2 linked regions of the Homo sapiens genome follow. The protein of the gene in region 1 interacts with the protein of each later gene in a pairwise test. Each region holds a gene or a part of one and is shown in the gene's direction. Other genes may lie near its edges.

What was found.
Region 2: the proteins of TEP1 (region 1) and UBAP2 interact in binary tests that used the Homo sapiens proteins (3 or more experiments, as listed by UniProt).

Annotation. Positions count from the first base shown.
Region 1 is NC_000014.9:20,375,480-20,382,504, reverse strand, and holds part of TEP1 (telomerase protein component 1), read left to right. Parts: intron 1-148; coding exon 149-281; intron 282-441; coding exon 442-592; intron 593-818; coding exon 819-952; intron 953-1,103; coding exon 1,104-1,192; intron 1,193-1,459; coding exon 1,460-1,574; intron 1,575-2,029; coding exon 2,030-2,270; intron 2,271-2,451; coding exon 2,452-2,575; intron 2,576-3,399; coding exon 3,400-3,524; intron 3,525-3,651; coding exon 3,652-3,751; intron 3,752-3,969; coding exon 3,970-4,125; intron 4,126-4,268; coding exon 4,269-4,481; intron 4,482-4,751; coding exon 4,752-4,905; intron 4,906-5,012; coding exon 5,013-5,225; intron 5,226-6,240; coding exon 6,241-6,401; intron 6,402-6,636; coding exon 6,637-6,750; intron 6,751-7,025. UniProt on the Homo sapiens protein: Component of the telomerase ribonucleoprotein complex that is essential for the replication of chromosome termini. Also a component of the ribonucleoprotein vaults particle, a multi-subunit structure involved in nucleo-cytoplasmic transport.
Region 2 is NC_000009.12:33,940,872-33,947,896, reverse strand, and holds part of UBAP2 (ubiquitin-associated protein 2), read left to right. Parts: intron 1-3,257; coding exon 3,258-3,532; intron 3,533-4,307; coding exon 4,308-4,477; intron 4,478-6,034; coding exon 6,035-6,248; intron 6,249-7,025. UniProt on the Homo sapiens protein: Recruits the ubiquitination machinery to RNA polymerase II for polyubiquitination, removal and degradation, when the transcription-coupled nucleotide excision repair (TC-NER) machinery fails to resolve DNA damage. May promote the degradation of ANXA2.

The DNA of each region.
Region 1 (7,025 bases):
CCTCATACCTCGCCTCACTTCCCTCCTACTGTTGTTCTTTACTTTTTCATTCCTCCACACTGTCCTCCTGCTGCCCCTTCCCTATCCCACAAGCCAAGCTGCTTCTCCTCCCACTGCACTGAACAAGGCTGTCCTCCCGCCATCCTAGGTGTCTGAGAGACTCCGGACCCTGCCTGCCACTGTCCCCCTGCTGCTGCAGCACATCCTGAGCACACTGGAGAAGGAGCACGGGCCTGATGTCCTTCCCCAGGCCTTGACTGCCCTAGAAGTCACACGGAGTGGTCAGTGCTTGGGGTGGGTTGGTTGGGAGGCTGAGGGCCAGGGTTCGGATTACATTGGTTCCCTTGGGGTCTCAGCAGGCAGTTCAAGGAGAGACTGGGTGTGGTGGGGGCGGGGACACCGTATGGTTAGATGAGGGCCTCAGAGAGCTTGAGTTTTCAGGTTTGACTGTGGACCAGCTGCACGGAGTGCTGAGTGTGTGGCGGACACTACCGAAGGGGACTAAGAGCTGGGAAGAAGCAGTGGCTGCTGGTAACAGTGGAGACCCCTACCCCATGGGCCCGTTTGCCTGCCTCGTCCAGAGTCTGCGCAGGTACAGGTGCCCCAGCAGAGCTCCCGCTGACCTCTCTGTGCCTTCCCTTCTTTGAGCCGGGGCCCTCTGTATAGCTTCAACAACTGGCTCCCAGACCATGAATGAGCTACTGCTCCAGCTGCTCCAGTTTCCGCTATTTGAGGGGGGAATAGGAGCCCACTGTGTGCCAGGAAGCTCACTGACAGGCCTCTTCCTTCTTCTCTCTCCCTTCCTCACACGAGGACAGTTTGCTAGGGGAGGGCCCTCTGGAGCGCCCTGGTGCCCGGCTGTGCCTCCCTGATGGGCCCCTGAGAACAGCAGCTAAACGTTGCTATGGGAAGAGGCCAGGGCTAGAGGACACGGCACACATCCTCATTGCAGGTGATTGCAGCCCAAGTCAGCCTGGGCACTGAGTGTGGGGCTTGGGCCTGGAGGCCAGGACCACCCACTGTGCTCCCATCTGCTGGCCAGCTCACCTACTGCCCTTGGGAATGATGCAGGGCTGAGCCTTTCTCAATATCTGTTCATGCAGCTCAGCTCTGGAAGACATGTGACGCTGATGCCTCAGGCACCTTCCGAAGTTGCCCTCCTGAGGCTCTGGGAGACCTGCCTTACCACCTGGTTAGTTCCTAGACCCCATAGACACCTTTCCCAAAGTGAGTGCTTTGGTTGCTCTGAGACCCCTCTCCCCGTTACCATCTCCACCATCACCGCCGCCATTACCCCTCCCAAACTCCCTTGACCTCTTTCCTTTCAGTTTTCCTGCCCTTCTTCTTCAAGTCCTTTGTCCCAGCTCAGATCCTATCTCTGTATCCAGGTTCTGAGACTAAACTGTCCCTTCTCACCAGCCCCTTCATATCCCTAATGAATTCAATCTGACCTTCTCAGCTCCAGAGCGGGAACCGTGGACTTCTTTCGAAGTTCCTTACCAACCTCCATGTGGTGGCTGCACACTTGGAATTGGGTCTGGTCTCTCGGCTCTTGGAGGCCCATGCCCTCTATGGTGAGATGAGTCACTGGCTGGGTTCTTCTCTGAGATATGGGACTCCTGGGTGTGCTTATGGGGGCCCTGCTCAGGGTTGGGGCAGGGGTGTGGGTGTCAGGGAAAAAAGATTCAAATTTCCATTTCGAGTTGAAAATGCCAAGAGGGTGAGCACGTGACTCTCAGGAGACCTTTCACCTTGATCTCTTGGACCAGAGATTCTTCAACTTTATTTAGTTAGCATAAAACTATCTAGGAAACTTGTTCAAATTGCAGATCCTTGGGTCTCCATATTCTGGTTTCCTAGGTTTGGAGTGGGGCTCAAAGCTTTGTACTTTTAAGAGATATTCCTGATATAGGGCCAGAGGGCCACACTTTGAGACTTACTATTGTAGACACACCATATGGTTTTATTTGGTGCTGGGGCTAATGGGGTCCAGCTGGCTCCCCAGTGACATTCTGCCACCCTTTTATAGCTTCTTCAGTCCCCAAAGAGGAACAAAAGCTCCCCGAGGCTGACGTTGCAGTGTTTCGCACCTTCCTGAGGCAGCAGGCTTCAATCCTCAGCCAGTACCCCCGGCTCCTGCCCCAGCAGGCAGCCAACCAGCCCCTGGACTCACCTCTTTGCCACCAAGCCTCGCTGCTCTCCCGGAGATGGCACCTCCAACACACACTACGATGGCTTAATAAACCCCGGACCATGAAAAATCAGCAAAGGTAAGACCTTGACCCCAGACCCTAGTAAGCCCACCAGAGAGCAAGCTGCAGCTCTTTCTGAAACTGAGGAATAAGGATGACCAGAAACACTGGAGAGGGATCCAGGCACAGAAGCACATAAATCAACTCCTGTTTGCATTCTCTCGTTTATTTCCTCCCTTTCTTCCTACTCTTTCTCTAGCTCCAGCCTGTCTCTGGCAGTTTCCTCATCCCCTACTGCTGTGGCCTTCTCCACCAATGGGCAAAGAGCAGCTGTGGGCACTGCCAATGGGACAGTTTACCTGTTGGACCTGAGAACTTGGCAGGTATGACAATCAAGGAGGGGCAGAATTTACCCTCTGAAAATCCATGCAGACTGCCCTGAAGCCCTAGATGAGCCAAACACACCTGTTATCACTCTGATTAATTCAGCAACTTTACTGCCTGCACATCAGCTCAAAGGGCTTGGCCAAAAAATCAATCACACAGCAAATATTTGCTGCACACCTTCCATTTAAGGCACTGTGCTAAGCGTTGCAAGAAACACAGGATTTGGGACATTGTCATTGCCCACCAAGTGGTCAGTTTTGTTGGGAGATAAGACATACGAGGTAAAAAAGGAACCAAAACATAGCCATGTAATCTAATTAAGACATGAGTGAGTTGTGCAGCTATAGGAGGACATAGGATAGAGAAGGGCAGGCACTCTTGTTTGAACAAGGAACCTGAGCAAAGACACAGGAGGGGAATGTTCCTGGTAAATTTGTAAATTGCTGGGAATTATGGCAGCACAGCGTGCTTATGGGAGGCTAATAGTACATTAGGCTGGAGAGGTGAGTCCTAGAACCACAGCCTCTTTCTATCCTCTTTACACTCATGTCATCCCCTACCCCATGTAACCCCATTTTCTCAGACCCATCAAAATTTTCTGTAACTTGGGGAATAGGTATGGGGTTTGGAGTAGGGGAGAAAATGTGGCCCCACTTGGATCACGAGGCCCCCACTTGAACGTGTGCTTGACTTGGAACATAGAGAGCCAAGGACTCATGGCCTTTGTGCCTTGGCCTTCTTTTTGGGTGGGGCCTGGAGTGGTGGGACTTGGAGGGTCAAGGGGATGGCCTGAGCTGCGCTCCCTCACCCACTGTCGCAGGAGGAGAAGTCTGTGGTGAGTGGCTGTGATGGAATCTCTGCTTGTTTGTTCCTCTCCGATGATACACTCTTTCTTACTGCCTTCGACGGGCTCCTGGAGCTCTGGGACCTGCAGCATGGTTGTCGGTAAGGGGTCCTCCCCATTTGTCTTGGAATGAGGGCCTTCCCCATTTTTTGGAAGCCCCAGGAGAAGGAAATGAGGAGGGAGCTGATGGCCAGGGTCCAGAGGACTGACTTCATCTTCCTGGGATAGGGTGCTGCAGACTAAGGCTCACCAGTACCAAATCACTGGCTGCTGCCTGAGCCCAGACTGCCGGCTGCTAGCCACCGTGTGCTTGGGAGGATGCCTAAAGGTAAGACTTGGGGTCTGCAGTGGTCAGAGTGGCCCTGAGCCATGACTCACCCTCGTGAATTTGTTCTCTCAGTGCGGCAGAGGCTGCTGACTCCCTGGCCAGAGAAGGCCTTCCCTGCTGAGGGCAGGGTAACTGGACAAGGTTGCTCCTGGAGGTCTGGGACTGAGAAGTTCAGGCATCTCTCTTCAGCATCCTGATTCCTCCTCTCTCTCCCTCAGCTGTGGGACACAGTCCGTGGGCAGCTGGCCTTCCAGCACACCTACCCCAAGTCCCTGAACTGTGTTGCCTTCCACCCAGAGGGGCAGGTAATAGCCACAGGCAGCTGGGCTGGCAGCATCAGCTTCTTCCAGGTGGATGGGCTCAAAGTCACCAAGGTAAGAAGGTCCAGTGTTGCTCTTGGGGGAAGCACAGGAGGACAGGAGTGGAGGGTGGCAGACGACAGACAGCAGCATTCTGGGTCACTTAAGATTTTGCTGAGAGCAGGTCTTCACGTTTCCATTTCTACCTCCCTGTGTAGGACCTGGGGGCACCCGGAGCCTCTATCCGTACCTTGGCCTTCAATGTGCCTGGGGGGGTTGTGGCTGTGGGCCGGCTGGACAGTATGGTGGAGCTGTGGGCCTGGCGAGAAGGGGCACGGCTGGCTGCCTTCCCTGCCCACCATGGCTTTGTTGCTGCTGCGCTTTTCCTGCATGCGGGTTGCCAGTTACTGACGGCTGGAGAGGATGGCAAGGTCAGCTTGCAGAGGGCTGGTGGTGGGTTGTGAGGAGGAGTAGCAAAGGCAAAGAATATCTTGGTGGGGGTGGGGGTCCTTTGTCGAGGAGACTGTGGAGGAGCTTGGATTGCAGGAACCACGGGGAGAGGGGTGCCGCTGTGTGCAGGGGCAGCTCTCATGAGAAGAGTCTCTGGAAGGAGGACTTTAATGGGGGTGGCTGTAACTCAAAACAGGAAGGAGGACCGCGTGGTGGAGGTGGTATCCTTAAGCCCTTTTCTTGGTTCCCAGGTTCAGGTGTGGTCAGGGTCTCTGGGTCGGCCCCGTGGGCACCTGGGTTCCCTTTCTCTCTCTCCTGCCCTCTCTGTGGCACTCAGCCCAGATGGTGATCGGGTGGCTGTTGGATATCGAGCGGATGGCATTAGGATCTACAAAATCTCTTCAGGTACTGAAATGGGAATGGGTGGGTTTTTGAGCCTTTAGAAAGAGCGCAGCCCCTGCCCCCTACCCCTTCCCAAGTGTCTTACTCCCTTGTTCTCTCTCATTCTCTAGGTTCCCAGGGGGCTCAGGGTCAGGCACTGGATGTGGCAGTGTCCGCCCTGGCCTGGCTAAGCCCCAAGGTATTGGTGAGTGGTGCAGAAGATGGGTCCTTGCAGGGCTGGGCACTCAAGGAATGCTCCCTTCAGTCCCTCTGGCTCCTGTCCAGATTCCAGAAGCCTGTGCTAGGACTGGCCACTTCCCAGGAGCTCTTGGCTTCTGCCTCAGGTACTACTAGACAGTGGGCAGGGTTAACAAATTACTGTTCTTTTCTTTTCTTTTTTTTTTTTTTAAGACAGAGCTTCACTCTTGTTGCCCAGGCTAGAGTGCAGTGGTACGGTCTCGGCTCACTGCAACTTCTGCCTCCTGGGTTCAAGCAATTCTCCTGTCTCGGCCTCCCGAGTAGCTGGGATTACAGGCATGCGCCTCCACGCCCGGCTAATTTTATATTTTTAGTAGAGATGGGGTTTCACCATGTTGGTCATGCTGGTCTCGAACTCCTGACCATAGGTGATCCACCCACCTCGGCCTCCCAAAGTGCTGGGATTACAGACGTGAGCCATTGCGCCTGGCCCACAAATCACTGTTCCTTTTAAAGACACTAACACCTTTCTCCAAGTTGTATGTATATGTGTATGAAAATACACATGTGCGATTTTGTTTTACAACTTTCAAAGTGCTTTTGAATGCAATTATCTTGCATAATCTGTTTAGACTGTTTCCACTCATTCCTTCACCTTCATTCTGGGACCTCTAACCTCCCAGTAATCCTTTGAGTTTCTGCCCCGTGGGAGACTTTGCTGTGAAAAGGGATAGGTTTCCCTTAGAAGGAGAGAGAGAGATGTTGAGGTGAAAATGTAGAATGGCCTAGGCCCTCTCTAGGAGGGAGAACTGGTCCTCACAGGTCACGAGGTGGAAGTGACACTGGACACTTGAGAAGAGGAGGGGTCTGGAGCAGCTGCTGTGGGAGTACAGTTAGAGAAGCAGAGACAAGGAACTGTGTTCCCGGCCTGAGCTGTGGAGCTGGAGCTGGGAGTGCCGCACGTTCCCGTCCTATGTACACACTCGCTGATGACCCTTGCCCAGGGCCTCTCCACAGCCTTGTGACTCCCTGCATCCCTCCCATGGAGCTGAGCCTCAGGTGTCACCCTCAGCCCCCATGGCCGCTCCTGTCTTTGGCCTCCCAGGGCCTGTCTGGCTTCCTCTTTCAGGAAGCTGTTCCCTCTCTCTTTTTCCAATGCAGAGGATTTCACAGTGCAGCTGTGGCCAAGGCAGCTGCTGACGCGGCCACACAAGGCAGAAGACTTTCCCTGTGGCACTGAGCTGCGGGGACATGAGGGCCCTGTGAGCTGCTGTAGTTTCAGCACTGATGGAGGCAGCCTGGCCACCGGGGGCCGGGATCGGGTGAGCTGCAGAAGGATGCAACCCTGGGGTCCCATAGCCTCTCTAGTTCCTAGATTTCTTAACAACCCATTTCCCATTGCTTCCTCCTGCTTTTTGTTTTGCCAAATCTAGTATAGATCTGTCTGCCTGTGCTTCCTTGTGCCCCTCTTTCCTTGAAATTTCTTGCCTGAAATGGCTCCGGGGTTCCCATCCTTCCTTTGGTCCTGATTGCTCCCTCTCCTTGGGGCCTATCCAGAGTCTCCTCTGCTGGGACGTGAGGACACCCAAAACCCCTGTTTTGATCCACTCCTTCCCTGCCTGTCACCGTGACTGGGTCACTGGCTGTGCCTGGACCAAAGATAACCTACTGGTGAGTAAAGGGCCAGGGGTGGCACAGAGCCCAGCTGGGTTCCTGGGGCAAGACAACACTCCCCACCTCGTCCTTTTTCTGGCACCCATTAATAATAGTGATAGCTAATATTTGTCAAACTTGATATGTGCCAGGCATTGAACTAAGCTCTTTTCATATATTGCTTCACTTAATCTTTACAACACCCTGTAAAGTAGATACTCCTTTTATCTCTATTTTTCAGACAAGGAAATTGAACTCAGAACATTTCCAAGGTCAATGATGAAGCTGAGCCA
Region 2 (7,025 bases), on another chromosome or scaffold:
GGATTATAGATGTGCACCACTGTATCCAGCCTAGACAATATTTTACTCTATTATTTTATTTTTTTTTTTTTTGAGTCAGGATCTTGCTCTGTTGCACAGGCTGGAGTACAGTGGCACAGTAACGCGTCACTGCCATCTTGACCTCCCAGGCTCAGTCCATCCTCCCACCTCAGCCTCTCTAGTAGGTGGGACTATAGGCACATGCCGTCACTCCTGGCTGATTTTTTTGTATTTTTTTAATGTGACAGGGGTTTGCCATGTTGCCCAGGCTGGTCTGGAACTCCTGGACTAAGGTGATCTGCCCACCTCGGCCTCCAAAAGTGCTGAGATCACAGGTGTGAGCCACCACGCCCGGCCTGGACAGTATTTTAACTATCACACTCTCATGCTTTCTCATTCTAACATTTTGAAGTATCAACTATGATTTCATCAACCTTTACATTCCGTGGTTTGTATTGTAAAGGTCCCATGTGTAGACTGGATGTTTTCTAAACTAAACTCCCACAGAAATTGTGACATTAAGCCACCATTCCCCACCAGCACTCACATGCCACACTGTATTAAGGAATAGCAGGGGATTTCATTCATTGTGGAGCTGGCCATGTGGGCTGGTTTATGGTTAGGGCATATAGAGAGACAGGGAAGCATATTCCTCTGTTCTGTGAAATGACTTACTGTGTTGGAAGTACATGAGACCACTCCGGGGTTTGAAGCGATGTCTACCAAGGGAAATCATTAGAGACTCAGTGCCCAAAGTTTTTGCTGGGGCAAGAAATGTAGGTACCCTGTGCCTACATTTTTTGCTATAGCACATAGCAAAATTACAGATTCCTAGAAGGAAAGCAGATGTTGAGCATAAACCACATTGTTTATACAGACATTCTTAGCACAGTGAGCCACTCTTAATAGGTTAGTGTGTTGGCACCCTTTGCCAAGTACATACCAGCAGTCCAAATTCTCAGACATTAGCCAAGGTCCAGTCATCAAGCAGGCCTTTTTGAGAGGAATTGTAGGTCCCTATATTAACTTTTTCTGCACACATAACTAGTGAGTGATAGGACTTTTTAGATAGAACCATGCTATTCCCATATTCTTTATAAAACCTGTGTGTTTGGTGCATGCCTATAATACCAAGTTCAAAAATGAATGCGCCTAAACCAGCTCTGCCATTTGTTTTTTTTTAAATTAAATTCTGTTGACACTCAGCTAGCTGGGCACAGTGGCTCATGTAATCCCAGCACTTGGGGAGGCAGAAGGAGGAGGATTGCTTGAGCAGGAGTTCGAGACCAGCCTGGGCAACGTGATGAGACACAAAGGCTAAAATATTAGGTTGTTGTACTATCTGGCCCCATAGAGAAAAAGAGGGCCAACCTCTGTCCCATATGGTAGAACTGGCTTTTCAAATCAGTAGTGAAAAAACGCTTTATTAAAACCGTTTGAAAAATGAAGTTGGATCTCTATGCCAAAATGCCAGTGGGTCAGATAGTTAAACATAAATAGTGAATCTAGAACTATAATAGAGAAAACACAGGAGAATTTTTTTGTTGTTCTGTGTGAGGGAGACCTTTCTGGGTATGGCAGAAAACACCAAATTAGGCAGACAAACAATGAAAAAAATACTCAAAATTTGTATCATAGACAAAAAGAGTTAATTTCCTTAATATAAAAAGAGTAAAAATAAAGCAGATCAACAAACAGGTTAAAAAACTGGCTAAAGAGATAAGAACAGTCTATAAGTAAAGAACACTTAAGTATATGAAATGATACTTAGCACATTTGTATCATTTTAGTTTGTATTTTTTAATACCATTTTCCACCAATTAAACCAGGAGATTCAAAAGTGTTTGATATTAGAGTGTGTTAAAAAGGATGTGTTCTATCTGTGGACAGTAATTTTATAATATTTATCAAAATTCAAAATATATTTACCCTGTGAAGGGGCAACTTTATCCTACCAGTTGATCCTACAGGTATACTTGTACTTGCACAAAATATCTTACATACAAATGTATTCATTAGTGCATTGCTTTTAATAGCATAAGATTTGACCTAAAAGTCCATTAATATAGTACTGGTTTTATAAAATGATACCTATGTGTACTAGATTTCTGTGTAGTCACCAAAATGAGTATGAAGTAGCTCTTTGAACATTAATGTGAGACACTCAATGGAAATTAAATGATTTGTGAGACAGTAAGGTATATAGTGTGTGTATATATATGTCTGTCTGTCTGTCTGTCTATATATATTGTGATATAGTATCTCTGAAAGAGACATTCAGGAAAACCGGGTACAGTGTTTGCCTTTGTGGAGCAAGTATGGGAGAGTGGTGTGGAAGAGAAACATAATATTCGTCATACATATTCTTGTATCTATTGGATTTTGTTTTTTGTTTGTTTGTTTGTCACCCAGTCTGTCACCCAGGCTGGAGTGCAGTGGCGCCATCTCAGCTCACTGCAAGCTCCGCCTCCCGGGTTCACGTCATAGGGCCTGCCTCAGCCTCCCGAGTAGCTGGGACTACAGGTGCCCACCACCACACCCGGCTAATTTTTTTGTATTTTTAGTAGAGATGGGGTTTCACCATGTTAGCCAGGATGGTCTTGATCTCCTGACTTCGTGATCTGCCTGCCTCGGCCTCCCAAAGTGTTGGGATTACAGGCGTGAGCCACTGCGCCCAGCCATCTTTTGGATTTTGTAACATCATATATATATATATATCAATTAGTCCAAAAACTTAATAAGTTTTTTTTTTTTTAATTTTTGGATGAAGACATGGTCTTGTTTTGTCATCCAGGCTGGAATGCAGTGGTGCAATCATAGCTCACTGCAGCCTTGTACTCCTGGGCTAAAGCAATCCTCCCACCTCAGCCTCCCAAAGTGCTGGCATTATAGGCATGAGTGACTGTGCCTGGCTCAAATTTTTAACAGTTATGTAGAAAATCCATAAAATAATAAAAGTATGATTCTCTGTTAGCTAATGGTCAGGTGTGTATAGCACCATAATATTGTTCTCACGAGTTCATCACTCCCTATGCTTAAACATAAACCAAATCTCTCTGGATAGGAAACAAGGTGTGTACCCATTTAGGAACTTTTCCCGTTTATCATAAATGAAGTGTTACACATAGTGTGTGTAAAACCTAAGAAATTCAACTGGAAATGATTTGGAGAAATTGGTGGTAATAGAACACTTCATGTTCTATTGAAGAACATTGTGAAGCCATTATGCCTCATTAATTGCTGCTTACTTTTTTTAGACTTCAAATCTCAACCTGAGCCATCCCCAGTTCTTAGCCAGTTGAGCCAGCGACAACAGCACCAGAGCCAGGCAGTCACTGTTCCTCCTCCTGGTTTGGAGTCCTTTCCTTCCCAGGCAAAACTTCGAGAATCAACACCTGGAGACAGTCCCTCCACTGTGAACAAGCTTTTGCAGCTTCCCAGCACGACCATTGAAAATATCTCTGTGTCTGTCCACCAGCCACAGCCCAAACACATCAAACTTGCTAAGCGGCGGATACCCCCAGCTTCTAAGGTGGGCATTTCATCATGAAGTCACCGTCCTAAAGCTGGAATTATTTTTACATTCAGCTCTAGTGGGATACTAAGTTTTGGAAACTGGGGTACAGTGTTTTTCAAGCACATAGCTTATTGATTGCATAATAAGGATATGGCCATTTCTGAGTGACCAGACTAGTATTAGAGGGAATGGGTTTGTGCTGAGAGCCACAGATCCTTATTTCAAGTACAGATTTGAAGATCTGGCTCAGAGAACTGTTGTTCTTGAGGGTTTTGCTGTATCCCATAGTTGGAGGATGCATGGTTCCTTGACCAGGTGATACTTTCATCATTGGTGAGTCCCCAAAAATAGAGTAGTCAGCTCAGTGTTCACTTCCCACCCACCATCACAACTCCCCCGCATTGCTCTTAGATGCAGGTGGTGATATTAATGCCAACCATTCCTGTTTAACTTTTAATTTCTCCTTTTTTTTTTTAAATGAGACAGGGTCTCGCCGTGTTGTCCAGGCTGGTCTTGAACTCCTGGGTGCAAATGATCCTCCTGTCTTGGCCTCCCAAAGTCCTGGGATTACAGGCATGAGCCACCATGCCCAGCCAACTTTTAATTTTTCTTAGCTTGTTTTTTTTCTTTCTCTTTTTAGAAAAGTCTTAGCCTATTTTCTCCTTGTTTCTCACTCCTTCTTCTTGCCAGTATTGCCTGGGAACCTAAATGCTTGTTTGGCTCTGTTATAGGCCTTTGTGACCTGGAATCTGTGACCTCTGTTCCTGACACGACAGCTTTGCTTTTTCAGATCCCAGCTTCTGCAGTGGAAATGCCTGGTTCAGCAGATGTCACAGGATTAAATGTGCAGTTTGGGGCTCTGGAATTTGGGTCAGAACCTTCTCTCTCTGAATTTGGATCAGCTCCAAGCAGTGAAAATAGTAATCAGATTCCCATCAGCTTGTATTCGAAGTCTTTAAGGTACTGAATTTAGTCCTTTGTTATGAAGCAAAATAGACCCTAAGAGAGATCAACTGGTGGAAAAGAATACATCCTGTGGTAATAGCTATCCTCAGTGTTTATCCAGACCTTCCATCATCTCCATAAGAAACCCCATACCTGTAGCAGACAGTCTCAGTTTCTTCATTGCCCTGCCCCTTAGCAACCAATAATCTGTCTCTGGATTTGCCTACCTGGACATTTCATATAACTGGAATCTTGGAATATGTGGCCTTTTATGTCTGATCTTTCACTTAGTGTAAGTTTTCGAGGTACACCCATGTTTAATGTATCATTTTTATTGCCAAATATTTCATTGTGTTGATAATACCACATTTTATTCATTCATTAGTTGGTGGACATTTGGGTTGTTTGCTCTTTTTGACTATAGTGAATGATGCTGCTATGGACATTTGGTTTCAAGTTTTGCATGCTTTCAGTTCTTTGGGATGTATATCCCAGGAGTAGAGTTGCTGAGTCATATGGTAACTTAACCATTCAGGAAACTCCCATACTGTTTCCACTGTGGCTGTAGCATTTGACATTCCTACCAGTAGTCTATGAGGGATCTAATTTCTCCACATGTTTGCAGCAGTCATTTTCCTTCAGTGGAATATTTTATAAATACAAAATCTCAGATTTTAGTTTTCTTTTCTTTTCTTTTTTTTTTTTTTGAGATAGGGTCTTGCTCTGTTGTCCAGGCTGGAGTGCAGCAGCATGCTTGGCTCGCTGCAACCTCTGCCTCCCAGGCTCAAATGATCCTCCTGCCTCAGACTCCTGAGTATCTGGGATTACAGGCGTGCACCACCATGCCCAGCTAATTTTTAAATATGTTTTGTAGAGACAGGGTTTCGTCATGTTGCCCAGACTGGCCTCAAACTCTGGAGCTCAATGAATCTGCCTGCATCAGCCTCCCAAAGTGCTGGGATTACAGGCATGAGCCACCGGCCTGGCTGACTTTGTTGTTGTTGTTGTTTTAGTTTTTTCACATTCCAGAGGCAAAACCTGATATTTGTTTAAGTTTCCTTTTTAAAGATGGTCTCAAACACCTGGATTCCTTAAAGAATCTTCTTATTTTTTTTCTTTTTTTCTAGACAGAGTCTTGCTCTGTCGCCAGGCTGGAGTGCAGTGGCGCGATCTTGGTTCACTGCAACCTCTGCCTCCCGAGTTCAAGTGATTCTCCTTTCTCAGCCTCCAGAGTGGCTGGGATTACAGGTGCCCACTGCCACGCCCTGCTAATTTTTGTATTTTTAGTAGAGACGGGGTTTCACCATGTTGGCAAGGATGGTCTCGATCTCCTGACCTCCGGATCCGCCCACCTCTGCCTCTCAAAGTGCTGGGATTACAGGCGTGAGCCACCGCACGCAGCCTAAGTATTCTTAAAGATGTCCCCCTATCTCTCAGTTAAATTAGGTGGGTCTCATTTGGGATAATAAATTGATGCAGTAGTTGCATCTCGTGAAGCTGTTTATGTTTTTTTTTTTTTATGAAGCTATTTAAAGTAACAAAATTATGTTGAATATTTTTGACTCTTTTCAGTGAGCCTTTGAATACATCTTTATCAATGACCAGTGCAGTACAGAACTCCACATATACAACTTCCGTCATTACCTCCTGCAGTCTGACAAGCTCATCACTGAATTCTGCTAGTCCAGTAGCAATGTCTTCCTCTTATGACCAGAGTTCTGTGCATAACAGGATCCCATACCAAAGCCCTGTGAGTTCATCAGAGTCAGCTCCAGGAACCATCATGGTAAGTGGTATTTTAGTTTTTTTCTCAGAAGATGTCCGTCTTATTTGGAAATTAATGTTTGGTTAAATTATGCTTCTTGGATATGATTTTATTTTACAAATTGACTAACCTTTTGAGTAGAATCCTTATAGTTCATTGAGTTTGTTTATAGTGGGCATCTCTAGCACCCATGCTCTTGAGTGTGTGGATAGATCTGCAGGTTCATACACTTTGTGGAGAAAACCAAGCATGCGTGTAGTATGAGCACTTTGGCTGTAGTACTGGGTACTTCTACATTGTCTGAAATATCTCTGAATATTTCATGTACTGCTTTCTCTCTGATTGCCCCATTTGCTTTGAATGTATTTGCTTCTTCATCACTGTTAGGTATTTTTGTGTTAAAATTATGTATTTTCTACCTAGTTTTTGTTAATAATACTGGACTATAGATAAAGGAACCAGATCTATTTTTGATATAGTTTTAAAGTTTTACCCTTCTAGATTCTTGCTAACTGCATATCTGATGGTCATTGCCAGTTGTATTGCTTTCTGTTAAGTTGAGATGTACCAATATCTCCTGAGAATCTTAGAAAGAAACTTAAAAAAGAACAAGTATACACATTTCATGTCACACTAGTAATACTTGAACATCATTCTGTCCCAGGAAATTAAAATAATATGGATGACACTACAGGCATACCTTGGAGATACTGCAGGTTGTTTTATACCACTGCAATAAAGAAAGTTGCGCTAATTTTTTGGTTTCCTAGTGCATATAAAAGTTACAATGTGGATATC